4 linked regions of the Homo sapiens genome follow. The protein of the gene in region 2 purifies or fractionates together with the protein of the main gene of each other region. This does not show direct contact. Each region holds a gene or a part of one and is shown on either strand. Other genes may lie near its edges.

Evidence for each region. The genes of interacting proteins can lie anywhere in the genome.
Region 1: the proteins of CCDC97 (region 2) and TTC33 purify together in Homo sapiens (affinity purification with mass spectrometry; 2 studies listed by BioGRID and IntAct, with this or other methods). This does not show direct contact.
Region 3: the proteins of CCDC97 (region 2) and U2SURP purify together in Homo sapiens (affinity purification with mass spectrometry; one large-scale study listed by BioGRID and IntAct). This does not show direct contact.
Region 4: the proteins of CCDC97 (region 2) and PAXIP1 purify together in Homo sapiens (affinity purification with mass spectrometry; 2 studies listed by BioGRID and IntAct, with this or other methods). This does not show direct contact.

The regions. Positions count from the first base shown.
Region 1 is NC_000005.10:40,728,462-40,731,961, forward strand, and holds part of TTC33 (tetratricopeptide repeat protein 33), read right to left. Parts: intron 1,883-3,500; coding exon 1,801-1,882; intron 16-1,800; coding exon 1-15.
Region 2 is NC_000019.10:41,322,773-41,325,373, forward strand, and holds the end of CCDC97 (coiled-coil domain-containing protein 97), read left to right. Parts: 3' UTR 1-2,101; downstream 2,102-2,601. UniProt on the Homo sapiens protein: May play a role pre-mRNA splicing through the association with the splicing factor SF3B complex which is involved in branch-site recognition.
Region 3 is NC_000003.12:143,022,070-143,025,569, reverse strand, and holds part of U2SURP (U2 snRNP-associated SURP motif-containing protein), read right to left. Parts: intron 3,074-3,500; coding exon 2,908-3,073; intron 2,718-2,907; coding exon 2,506-2,717; intron 1,596-2,505; coding exon 1,552-1,595; intron 1,087-1,551; exon of another isoform or gene 1,022-1,086; intron 1-1,021.
Region 4 is NC_000007.14:154,965,125-154,968,624, forward strand, and holds part of PAXIP1 (PAX-interacting protein 1), read right to left. Parts: coding exon 3,279-3,500; intron 2,787-3,278; coding exon 2,692-2,786; intron 1-2,691.

The DNA.
Region 1 (3,500 bases), on a different chromosome or scaffold from region 2:
AAGAGACATTAGCACCTATAGGCAAAAAAAGACCAAAAAATCTGTCAGTAATATTCATAAACTAGCAACTACATAAAAAACCCTTTTCATTTTTTAAGATATATTTTTAGTCCAGTAAAAATAGCATTTCGGTGATTTTTACCCCTTACTCTGCCATTCAGGGTAAGAAATTATAGTTCTCTTTTCACCCCTTATATAACTATGAAAATGTAAACGATTCCCTTTCCAGTTATTGAATCTTATGTCCATCTGGTCAAAACCAAGTGGTCATATCCTAACTATGGTGGCTCAGAGGTATTTTGAACTCCCAATTCCACTTCCATTTATTCTATTTACAATGTGGTTTTCAGGGAACCCCAGGTATTGCCATTAAACTAGGTGAATTAATTTGTTCAACCAGCCATCCCGTCCCTAATGAACATCTTTATGTTATAAAAAGTATTTAAAACATTCCCTAGGCCTTCTCACTACTGGGCATTTCAAACCATACATACTAGGAAGGTAGGGTTAGGGTTAGGGTTAGGGTTAGGGAGAGTTAGGGTTACCAGAGAGTTCTAGTACCCTCCACTGTGGTCTGTGGGAAGAGGCTGGATTTTATCTATAATCTTTAGGACCATTAACACTTTAAAAGATTTGTGATACAAACATTATTATCAGGTTCCAAATTAAACAAGTCTTCATAAAGCTTGCCACAAACCTGTCATTCATATATACATATTTAAGATTGAAAAAGGAATACAAATGAAGGTCCTCATATCACTTGATTCAGATGACATAATTTATTTGGGTTTTTCCTGGATAAACTAAAGTCAAAGGTGACAAATGTGTGTCCTATATTTGAGATCACGATTTGAAAAATATTTGTTAGGTGTGCAGATTAAGGCTGAATTGCAACAATTCCCTGCCAAAAATATGTTTAATGCTCTGTGTGAGACTTTTAAAATCACTTGGATAACCTATTCAAGTGCTCAAAGGTTTTCTTTACAGACTTTCCTACAAAATATTAGAAACATGTTTTTAAAGTACAAATGTTATTTTTAAGCTATTAATAAAATTGCATCTATGCTGACCTTTTGCTAAGGACTAAGCCATTTTTAGAAATATCTCATCTAGAACCCAATCCATCCTCATTTTTAAGAAAACTGAACTATTTTGCTAAGTCTACTATATTTAATCACAAGGAAAGCGTATGTTTTTCATCTAAGAGCTCAACAGTGACTTTTTATTTATTTTTTATTTACTTATTTATTTTTTTGAGATGGAGTCTCGCTGTGTCACCCAGGCTGGAGTGCAGTGGCACTATCTCAGCTCACTGCAACCTCCGCCTCCCACGTTCAAGTGGTCCTCCTGCCTCAGCCTCTCAAGTAGCTGGGACTACAGGCATGTGCCACCACGCCCAGCTAATATTTGTATTTTTAGTAGAGGCAAGGTTTCACCATGTTGGTCAGGGTGGTCTCGAACTTCTGACCTCAAGTGATCCACCCACCTCGGCCTCCCAAATTGCTGGGATTACAGACGTGAGCCATGGCACCTGCCCACCAGTGACTTTAAAAGATAGCCACCGATTCCTATCTTACAATAGTTAGGCTAAAATAACAGTTAACTTCATTGTAAAGGCAAATGAATTTCCAGTTTTATGCATAAGACAGAACCATAAATAATGGTGAAATATTTTTTCCCAAAGAAACCGTATTTGTAAAAGAAAATGGGAGAAAATGCTATTTTGCTTCATCATTGCTCACTCACCGAACAAACATAGCACAATTTCATAAGGAAAGTGAAATTCTTCATAATTATTACCTGTGATTTCATCTCGTATAGGGTAGCATCATTTGGAGTTAACTGTAGTGCTTCATCCCACTTCTGAATTGCCTCCCGATATCTGTGGTTGTTAAAGTTATATCAATGCCATATTTTCAATATGCTTTTTTGGACTTTCAAAAAAAAATTTTTATTGTAGTAAAATATAAAATTTACCATCTTAACCATTTAAGTGTACAGTTCAGAGGCATTAAGTAGCATTAAGTACATATAGTTCATTCACCTTTGTGTGCAACCACCACCACCATTCATCTCCAGAACTTTTTCATCTTCCCAAACTGAAACTCCATACCCATTAAACAATAACTCCTCATTGCCCCCTCCTCCACCCCCGGGCAAACACCATTCTACTCTTAGACTGCTTTCAGGAGGAGCAGTCATGTACTTTCAGTTCAACAGTTTTTTGGACTACTTTCTAGTCCATGAAATATATGTAAAAATCCAAAATAAAGGATTAGCAAATTAAGTCCAGCAACTTACTAAAGTACAAAATCCACATGATCATGTAGTGTATGCTCAGAAAAACTTAGAAATGGGTTCATATGTAACAGATAAGGGAGAAAAAAGTACATGCCACTAAACAATACTTAGTATAATTTAACACCCATTTCTGATTATTTATAATAATAATAAAAGTATATACAACATTAAATAAATTTAGTACTGTGGTGCCATCATCTACTAAGCTTTAATGATATAACCTCTAAAAGCAGTAACTATATCACCTAAAAAGAAAGTACTTGCACTTCTTTAGGCATATTGTGGGTGATTTCAAGCCTCTCTAAACAATATTTCCAAATGTTATTGTAGATGTGACAGGAAAAACTTTGGAAATTAATTTATTGATGTATTCCTTCATAACAATCCTTCCACTCACAATTTTCTAACAAAGGTAGCAGTAATAAATTCTGCAAGACTTAATAGTAGCAAATGTCTTTCCTCCAGCATTAGAAGGAAAAGGTTGGACTGTTTGTCCAATCTTTTTTCTACCACTCCCTACACATACCTGTGCTCCACTCAGCAGGGTTTTTATAGTCCCTACCCACATATCATGCCTTTGTTAGTATGGATCCCCTGCTACACATACACACACACACATCTGTATTAGTTCACTCTCACGCTGCAATAAAGAACTGCCCAAGACTAGGAAATTTATAAAGGAAAGAGGTTTAATTGACTCAGTACCACAGGGCTGGGGAGGCCTCAGGAAACTTACAAGGATGGCAGAAGGGGAAGCAAACACATCCTTCTTCACATGGAGGCACGAGAGAGAAATGAGCGCTGAGCAAACAGGGAAGCCCCTTATAAATCCATAAGATCTCGTGAGAACTCAGTGTCATGAGACCAGCATGGCAGAAACTGCCGCCATAATTCAATTATCTCCACCTGGTCCCATCCTTGACACGGGGATTATTACAATTCAAGGTGAGATTTGGGTGGGGACACAGAGCCAAACCATATCACATATCTAAGATTGCCTTCCTACTCCTCTTCATCTATTCAAAGGCTCCTCCTCTAAGACCAAGTTAAAATGCTCCGTTCTTCATGAAGACCTCCTCCAGTGGCTCTAGCCCACTAACTATGAGTACCACTTCAGACCACATAGCAACACTTATATTTCCAAAGCATTTTATGTTTTACAAAGCACTTTCAATACAATTATTTAACATACAATTATT
Region 2 (2,601 bases):
CCAGGCCTGCTCAGTGACCCTTTCTCTAGGGGGACATCAGGGCAGTGCCCCACAACCCACACACACCACCATCTCACTGGGTCTAGTCTCATCTCAGACAACCCCCACCCCCACTGTTTCTGGGGTTCCCTTTCTCATCTCTCCCACCCTGTCTCCTGCCTCTGTCTTTCTTGGTGTCTGTCTGGGCTTCTTTCTGTCTCTTTCTGTCTTTCTGTCTCTCTCCCTACCCCCGCTCCCTCTTTCCAGTGCTCTGGCTGGCTGTCTCTCCCTTTCTCCCCCTCTCTCTCTGCCTTAGGCTCTGTCTCCACCGCAGGGCCCAAGGTGAAAGTCCTCCCCTTGCCGGAGGCCAGCTGGCAGGGCCTTTCGTGGCTGGAAGTGGCCAGTTTGGTTCCGGTGCTGACCCCTAGGCCCCAGCGCAGCTGCCTCCCGTGCTGTCTGTCTCCCCCTCTCTGTTTATGTCTGCGCTGTGTCTCACACTCAGAGCCTCCTTGCTTCTGTTAGGTTCCCATCTCTCCTTCTGCCTCACTCTGGGCCTCTTCTTTCTACTTGTACATTTCCACCTCTCTAGGCCTCTGCTCTCACTGTCCCTCTCTGTCTGTCTCTCAGCCTTTATCTCTGGGTTTTGATCCCCCACTCCAGGCTCTGGGCCCCTTCTTCCCCCTTCCCTCAAACCTGGCTGCTATAGGCAGCAGAACCCTGACCACTGAGTAATACAGCCCCAGGGGAGGGAGGAGACCCCAGGCAGGGAGGATGGGGGCAGCTCTCTTCTCTCCCCAGGACCCAGGCTGTGGATCACGGGGCCTGCCAGCTTGAGTGTAGAGGGAGGGGGGACTCTACCCTTCTCAGCCCCACCAGCCCCCCTCTGCCCAACCACAATTTTCCCTTCCTCCGCCTTCCTCTCCCTCTCCTGTTTACACTCCCCAAATGCGCACAGGCTGTTATCATGGGTCCTGAGTCATCCCACACACAGCCTGCCCCAGCGTCCCTGCCCCCAGCTGGCCGCAGGGCCCGCCCCATGGAGCCCCCTGCCGCCCTGGGCTAATGGGAGCCAGATGGCCGCCTGGTGACTCAGCCACCGGGCCTGTGGGAACCCAGGCGTCCCGCCTTCCCATGCCCCCACACCCGGCTCCTGCTCCCCCAGCAGACACACACAGGAGGGCCTGGCCACTGTTGAGGGGGCACACAGGGCAAGGGTCACCAAGTCGGGGCCTAGGGACTCCTCATGCCTCTGAGATGGAATGGTGGTATCCTGCCGTGGCCAAGCCTGAAGGACCCTCAAAACTGCCTCCTGGAGTCCACGGTTCCTGACCTCCGAGCCTCAGCTATGCCCTCTGGGTCAACCAGAATTAGAGCCAGACAGGGAAAGTGAGAGCTGGATGGAGGCAGACAAGATGCTCAGAGCGACTATTAAAGAACGAAAGCCTCTGCTACGGAGCGCTTCTGTCCTCTGTCAGGCCCGAGCGAAGTGCCTGACACCGGGTTGGATCCTCAGATGGCCCCATGAACTAGTGAAGTGGGTCAAAGGAGGCCTGGAAAGATGTTGCTTCCTCAAGGCCACTCGGCCATCAGAGGCAGAAATGAAACAGGAACCCAGGCCTAGAATCACAAAGGTCCTAGAAACCACTTGGCTGTCTGGCCTCTCAGGTGTCAGGGCCATCCAGAGTGAGACAGCATTGGAGGGACAAGTGTGCATGCAGATGTCCTCAGACGGGAAGGTTTGAGAAGGGTCAGATGGTAGGCGGGCCTAACAAGGGCTCCGTGCTAGCCACTGTCCCGCACACAGACAGGATCAGGTCATCTTGATATGGAGATCAGTCCCCAAATCACTGAATTGTCCCAGCAGTGCTATGCCCTAGGTACTACCAATATCACTCCTCTATTTCCCAGAGGAGGAAGCAGCAGCTAGACTCCAGGACCTTGGGGTCATATCTCTCAGAAAGCCAAGAGTGCAGGATGAGAGCTGTCTGTCTCTTACCTGCCTGTATTTGTGCCCCATTTTTAAAGAGCAGAGGGCCTGGGCCACAGGAAAGGTATCAGCCCTTGGTGATAGGCACATTTTTTACCAGTCTATCATTTGGTCATTAAATTTGTTTACAATATACTTTGCTATACGTAAATTTGTTGTGTAGGTTTTTAAAAAGCGATGAGAGACACAGAAATTGAGTCAGAATTAGGGTTAGTCAGATGGTCAAGACGTGAGCATCTAGCTGACAGACAGAGGTGGAGCCAGTCCCAGGGACAGGGATTAGATGGGGAGACAGGAAGAGAGGTGGAGACAGAGTGGGGTAGGGATGACGGGAGACACACCCCCTGGTCACTGCCTCTGAGACCTGGGGGTGGTGGGCCCCAGGGCGGGTGCCTCCCATCCCCCTCCCAGTTCTCCCGGGGTCGGGGTAGGTGGAAAGGCTGAGTCAGGGAGGGCGGGCCCCGCTGGGAGACAACCCCTAGGTGGGCATCCGGCCCCCACCCCCGTGTCTCCTGTCCGTCCTGGCCCTGGCCTGGCTCGCTGGCCTGGCCGCCACCCCGCCCCCCACGTCTGACACCTCCATGCGTCCTGCCAAAGCAAGCTGCCTCCCTGCACTCTTCCCCCTCCAGCTCCAG
Region 3 (3,500 bases), on a different chromosome or scaffold from region 2:
AATGTAAAGTTATGATTCAATTCCAAAACTCCCCACTGATAGGAGCCAAATTAAAGCTAAGGGAAATTTTATGTATAAGACTAATTACTAGGTGGACAAATGTTATACATCCAGAAACTTGTGTGAATTAAGTCAAAAGCAACTTGACTTTAGCATTTAAGATAGAGGAAAATTGTTTAGCAAGTTTAAAAACAAAGGATTCATCCTAATGGTGAGTGAAGACTTTCGGCAAAACGCACACTCAAAATTTTGTTTAGAAATAAGCTGAGCCACATACATGTAAAGCTACCACTAGATATGTGCTTTTTTTGAATGCTACAAAAATACTATCCTGTGAATGCTTTTATCAGTGGTGAAAAACCCACTATAGTTTTAAACAGGCTTGTAACTGATAAATCTATTTTTAGAAAATTAAAAGTTTATAAGTATTTTTAAAATGTTTCATGATTATTTAAAATCAAAATCTGACAATTAATTGTTATTAACTTGATGTCAAGATTACTAAAGAACTGTAATCACATTCTTCTTCCTTAAGGATTGTGTTTATTTTAAAAATGGTGACTTTTCTATTAGAATAAAACAGTGTAGTACAAAAAGATGATATATTTAAAGTGCATTATTTAATTTTAAAATGGTAATTATCTTATTCTGGGCAACAATAACCAAAAAAAAAACAAAAACAAAAAATTGTCTCTCAGTTATAATAAAACCACATTTATTGGAGTCGATCGTACCAATGTCTGGTCAAAAACTGTATACTTTCCCAATCCATCCCATGATGTTTTCCTGGTCCCCCGCTGCCGCAGACAGTTCAGCTGGTGTTGCTCACCAAGGCCAATGTCAAAGAGAATTTGGTATTCTTTTGTGTTCATTTATTATTCAACCAGTGTTGTGTTCCTGTGTTTGGGAAAAGGCTTAGCTTGACTGAGCAAGAGCATACCTACAGCATGAATTCTTCTGCTTTAATAGTGTGTTGAAAGAGAAAAAAAGGAAGAAAGGAAAATAAAAGAATTCCAAATACCTTTGTTACCATGAAAAGAAAGTTTCTAGTATGTCCAGTGTTCATGACAATAATAGGAATTTCTTCTTAAAATCAATTGAAAAAACAAAAAACAAAGCTATGCCTTCAGTAAGGAGAACTCAAACCAAGGTTATATATTAAATGCAGATAATTCAGAAAACAAGAAAAAAATAACAACAGATTGGGTCAAACTGTAACGTTATCTGAAATTTACGACACACTTAAAACATCTATTTTCCCATGACAATAGTCTATTGTCTGACTCCAAATCAGAGCTAATAAATACACTCTAACTAGTCAAACTATAAACATTCCCTACAGTGATAACAATAAAAACAAAAAAAGATACTGACATAAAATTGCAAAGTATACAAAAGTTAGTTAAATTTCACACATCCCCCCGCAAAAAGTACTGGGAAGGAACCATTGCTCAGTCAAGATACTACCTTTTCCTCAACACCATTTCTTTTTAAATTCAGAAGGGGATATTGTCTATATTTAGATCAGTAATAATAAAGAAAAACATGTACCTTTCTGTTGGGATAACCACTTTGACTATGGCTTGCGACAGAGTCTGTATATGAAGTCACATCAGATAATAAACATAGAATATGTGAGTATTGTTAACAAGTAACAAGCAAAAATATACATATGCATTGAAAATACTACATATCTAATCACAAGTTTTGCAGGCAATCACTGCATTTGAAGTCATTATACACTAAGCAATTACATAAATGCAAATGGATGTGTTCAGTGAACAATAAACGTTCACCAAATGCAAAGAATCAGAACATTCCTGCCAGAATGCACATCAATGCACTGAAATAGGTACTACACTGAGAATTATCAGATAAAGATTTTAATTTGTGAAATAATTAACTGTTTGCCTCTGACCATACAGTTCGCTACTTTGTTCCCAAGCCTTTAAAACCAGCCCTGTCATTTTAAGTGTAATTAATTCATAATAGAACCAACGAATTCTTATAACTTGAAATTAAGTTGGTTTTATTTACTAAAAAGAAAATACTCACCCTTTGCTTTTACTAGATTAACTATTTTTTACAAACCACATAAATCTTCTCAAATATTCTAATACCTCAGATCTAGCTGCCATCCAAACAATAACTACTTAGGAGGTCTTTCTAATTGAAATGTCACTTAACCAAATACAAAGTATCACTTTCTCAGAACAAAGTAAATTTAGTTAATACACTTAAGCAAATCTGGATACAACACTGGACAAAGGAAAAAAAACTTAACAAGTGGTCAAAAAAGGAATGGTAGCCACAAATAAAAATATGACCTAGTATTTCAAATATAGGGTTTCCATGGGCTAAGGCAGGGAACACATCTACTTATTTCTTTAAAAGTTGCCAAACAGAATTACACACACATTTTCTATAAAATTGTTGAAAAGAAATACTACCACAGCTTTAGTATTTACAAATTAGATGCGGCCTTATGTCCATTTTTTAAATTACCTTCTCAAAATCCTCTTTGTTTTTAGGTGGCGGTAACATAGGAGCATTAGGGTTTTTTAACCGCTCTCTAGGCTGCGCATTAAAAGGCAGTCCGGATGGAGGTGGGGGAAGCGTATGTTCCATCATAGAAGGCGGAATGTATATTGGATGTGGAGGAATAGGTACAGCTTTACCCCAACCTAACTTCATTTCAAAAGACATAATCATTTTTCCTACAAGAAAGAAATGAAAGGTCATTTTGTTAACTCTCAAAAGTTTCCAAACAAAATTTTTCTGGTGAGTTGAAATAATTTTCATTTTAACCTCTCCATTTCAGGTCCAATCCTTCCTAGTTTTTATAAATACTTTTCCAAACCAAAGAAATATCTGAATTGTATAAATGGATAATAAAAATGTTCTTACCATTCAAATTTTTTAAAGCTCTTTCAGCATCTCTTCTATTCATAAAGGCCACAAAGCCGCAATTTCTCTCTCTGGCTCTTTCTTCATCAGTTCTAGGCCACATGATTTTCACACTGGCTAACGGTCCAAATCTTCCAAATTCTTGGCACAGCATTTCTTCATTCATCTATTAAAAAGGGTAAAAGATTTTTATTATGCAAAAAAGGGAAAAGAAAAAATTATTTTCAGAAAACAAAGTAGTTTTTACAAAATAAAAAGCAACATAGCAACGTGCTTCAATTTTCCATTTAAGTACCAGGAACGCCACACAAGTAAAATCCCGCGTGGGGCATTCATAAATCATTTCATACTATAAATATTCTGGTTTATTTAAGATGCCAGGGTGGGGAAGTTCAGTGGATGAAGAAATCAAAATCATTTTTACTCTCTATCTTCCTTTGTTTTAAGGTCCTGGATCTAAGTAAGATGTTTTATAGTGATGGTTTGTTTAGGCATTTAGTAACATTTTTCAAGCAGGCATGGTTAGTACATTTAAATTAAAGAGGAAATATGTATTGACAATGAAGAAAAAAAGTATCTAATCATCTGTTCTA
Region 4 (3,500 bases), on a different chromosome or scaffold from region 2:
TGCGGGTTTTCCCTCTATCTTGGGTCACACCCCCTGGGGAAGGGAGCCAGCTGTCATGCTGTGAAGACACACAACCAGCCCTCTGGAGAGCCTCTGTGGTGAGGAGCTGAGGCCTCCAGCCCACAGCCATGTGACGGAACCATCCTGGAAGGGGCTCCTGCAGCCTCCGCTGGCATCCTGACTGCAACCTCAGGAGATAGCTGAGCCACAACCGCCCTGCCAAGCTGTTGCAGGATTTCTGACCCACGACCAAACTGAGAGGTAATGTTTATTGTTTTAAGCCACTGGGTTTTGAGATAATCTGTTACACAGCAAGAGAAAATGAATGTAGTATCACCTATACTTAAGCAACACAGGTGTGAACTGTGTGGGTCCACTGATAGCTGGATTTTCTTCCACCTCTGCCACCCCTGAGGGAGTAAGACCAGCCCCTCCTGTCCCTCCTCCTCCTAGGCCCACTCATCGTGAAAACGACGAGGATGAAGACCTTTATGATGATATACTTCCCCTTAATGAATAGTACATATATTTTCTCTTCCTTATGATTTTCTTAATAACATTTTCTTTTCTTTAGCTTACTTTATTGTAAGAATATGGTAATACATATACAAAATATGCGTTAATTGCCTGTTTATCAGTAAGGCTTCTGGTTAACACCAGGCTATTAGTAATTTGGGTTTTCGGGAATCAAAAGTGATGTACAGATCTCTGATTGCATGGGGGTGAGCACCCCTAGGCCCCACACTGTTCAGGGGTCAGCGGTACATGTCTCTCCTCAATCTACCAGTGTTTTCGTTTGCTTGCTCCTCCTGGAAGTCTCTCTTCCGGTCCCAGGTCTAGTTCTCTCGACACCTACTTTCTCATCTATTGGCGTTTCCCTTTACCTCCATCCTAGGAACTCTCTTTCAATCTCTGAGTCAAATGCCTCATTTCCTGGCTACCATGTTTCACTCTCTGCTGGCATAGTGGCTTCCTAAGAAAGAATATAAGGGAGGTACATTTTTTACCATTAGTCTACAAATATCCTCCTTCCATAGTCTTATGACTGATAGGCTCTATAGGTTATTTTAGGTTGGAAATTATTTTCCCTCAAAAATGGAAGAAGCTGCTCCATTGCTGGCCCCCGCGCACTGCACTGGAGGCTCCCGAAATCACCCAGACTCCTGATCTGTCCACGTTTCCCCTCCAGTGAGCTTGTCTTTGAGAGAAAACAGTTTTCTCTACCAGCATTGTGAATGTTCCCAGTTGCCTTATCATGGCTCTCCTTACATTTCTTTTCAACCTGAGGGCACATGGCCTTCAGTTGCAAAGCTATTTTCTTTCATAATGTTCTTGCCTTCATTTTCTCTGTTCCCAAGATCCTATTTAATGTTAGACCTCTTGGATAAATCTTTTAACTTGAAAACAAGACAAAAACCCCAAACTTTTCTCCACTAACTTTTGTATCTTTGAGTTTTGTTGTACTTCTCAAGACAGTTTCTCAGTGCTGCCTTCGAACACTTCTGACTTTTAAAAAATCTCTGCTGCTGTCCTTCTCAGAACTGCTCCCTTCCTTCCTCACCCTGGCACATGCCATCCGCCTCTTTCCTCAGCCAGCCACACAGTCATCTCCCTGGTCACCCTCAGATTCAACCCTTTACTATTTAAAATGCACAGCTGATCACTTCACCTGCATCTAAACTTCACCACATGGCACACCAACAAGGTCTTGGAAGACACACCAGCCCTGGCTCCTGCCCCAACCCCTGCCTCGTGGATCCCACTGAGGCACCCTCCTTTGCACCCTCCTGTCAGTTTCACCAATCACATGCCTTTGGCTGTGCTGCACTATTTGGAAAATCCTCCCCCCTAATTCTCACTCCTACTCATCCTATAAGCAGTTCAGGAATCACCTCTCCCAGCAGACTTTTCTTAACACATCACCCCACAACACGATGGGTGAAGGTCCTTTCTCAGGCTCTCACAACAGCCTGCATTTGCCACCCCACCTCTGCTTAGCCGTGTGGCTGCCTCTCGCACTGCTCTTCCGTTTTCTCCGTCTCTGTGATTTCGCACATATTCCCTAAGTCTTGCAGCATGCTTGGCACATAGCAGGGATTTAAGCACTAGGGATGTTTATAGTGAAGCACATTCAAGATATATTAGAGGCATATTTAAACTCGGTTTTTATAAAAAAAATTTTTTGACTCAGTTTTGTTTTGGGGAATGCAAGAAAAAGTATTTCTTTTCTTTAAAGGCCACCATGCATGATAATACATAATTAAATTAACTCCAGTTTCACAATTGGGCTGGAAGAATTTGAGGTTCTAGAGATTCCAGGATTTTCTAACAGTTACCTTTGGAGAAAGAGAAATGACTGAGATGCATACAAATTAATAGTCCCTCTCCCAGGACACCAAAACCCTGAACTTATTTCCATTGCCCCAATTATACACATATAATTAGTGCCCCCTGGAATTTCCAAGCTGAAAAAAATAAAAAGTCCACCATCTTCATCTAACAGCTGAGAAAACTGATGCCCAGAAAAGTGCTGTGCCTCAGGTCACACAGAATGTTAATCAAAATGCCCGTCACACATTCAGAACACGTGCAGGTGCAGCTCAGTGAATGCAGCTAAGTGAACACAGTTACATCTACATAAGAAAGAAGCATCTTCAGACACAGTCATCCTTCCTCCAGGCACAATCTCACCCTTTTCCAGGTGGCCAGCAGTTGCTTATCAGACATCTGCTCTGGATAATCCGCAATTGCAAACACACATCCCAATAAGAAGCCTTCTTCTGGAACTAGAGTAAAATTACATAAGAAAAAGAAAATTAAAACCCTATGAATATGCTTGCACAAAAGTTAAAAAGTGGCGCCTCACAATGTCAATCTGTTATGTTTATCAGTCTTGACCATGACGTATCTGCCAGTAATCAGAGTGCATAGGGAATATTGCTACGAAGATACTATTTAACTGTCTACATCAAATGATCATTAAAAACTAAAACCAAGGTAACTCATGCCTGGCCATTAAATACCCTGAATGAGTCCCTGTGGCAGCCTAGATGTTCTACGGGACACCAATATTCACTTCAGGATATGATGTCCCAAAGTACAAAAGAAAGCATAATTATCCCATGGTAACTATATTCTTTGTTAGGTATGAGACTCACACTCTCCATTTTGTAGTAATTGTTTTGATATGAATCCTCACCCCACACTCAAACACTCTCAAAGCATTTATGTGGGTACAAGACTTTTAGGAGAGAGGAAAAATAATCTCCATTACTAACTCTCCACTGCTGGATCATGTCCAAAAAGCTGATGCTGCTGAGGCGATGGTGGTGGCTGCTGTTGCTGCTGCTGCTGCGGGGGCTGCTGAGGTGGAACCTGATGCTGCAGCGCCTGTGACGTCTGACTCAAGTGTGGCGCTGTCTGACTTTGCATCTGCTGCTGCTGCTGCTGCTGGTGCATGCGCTGGAGCTGCTGCTGCTGAATCTGCTGTTGCTGCTGCT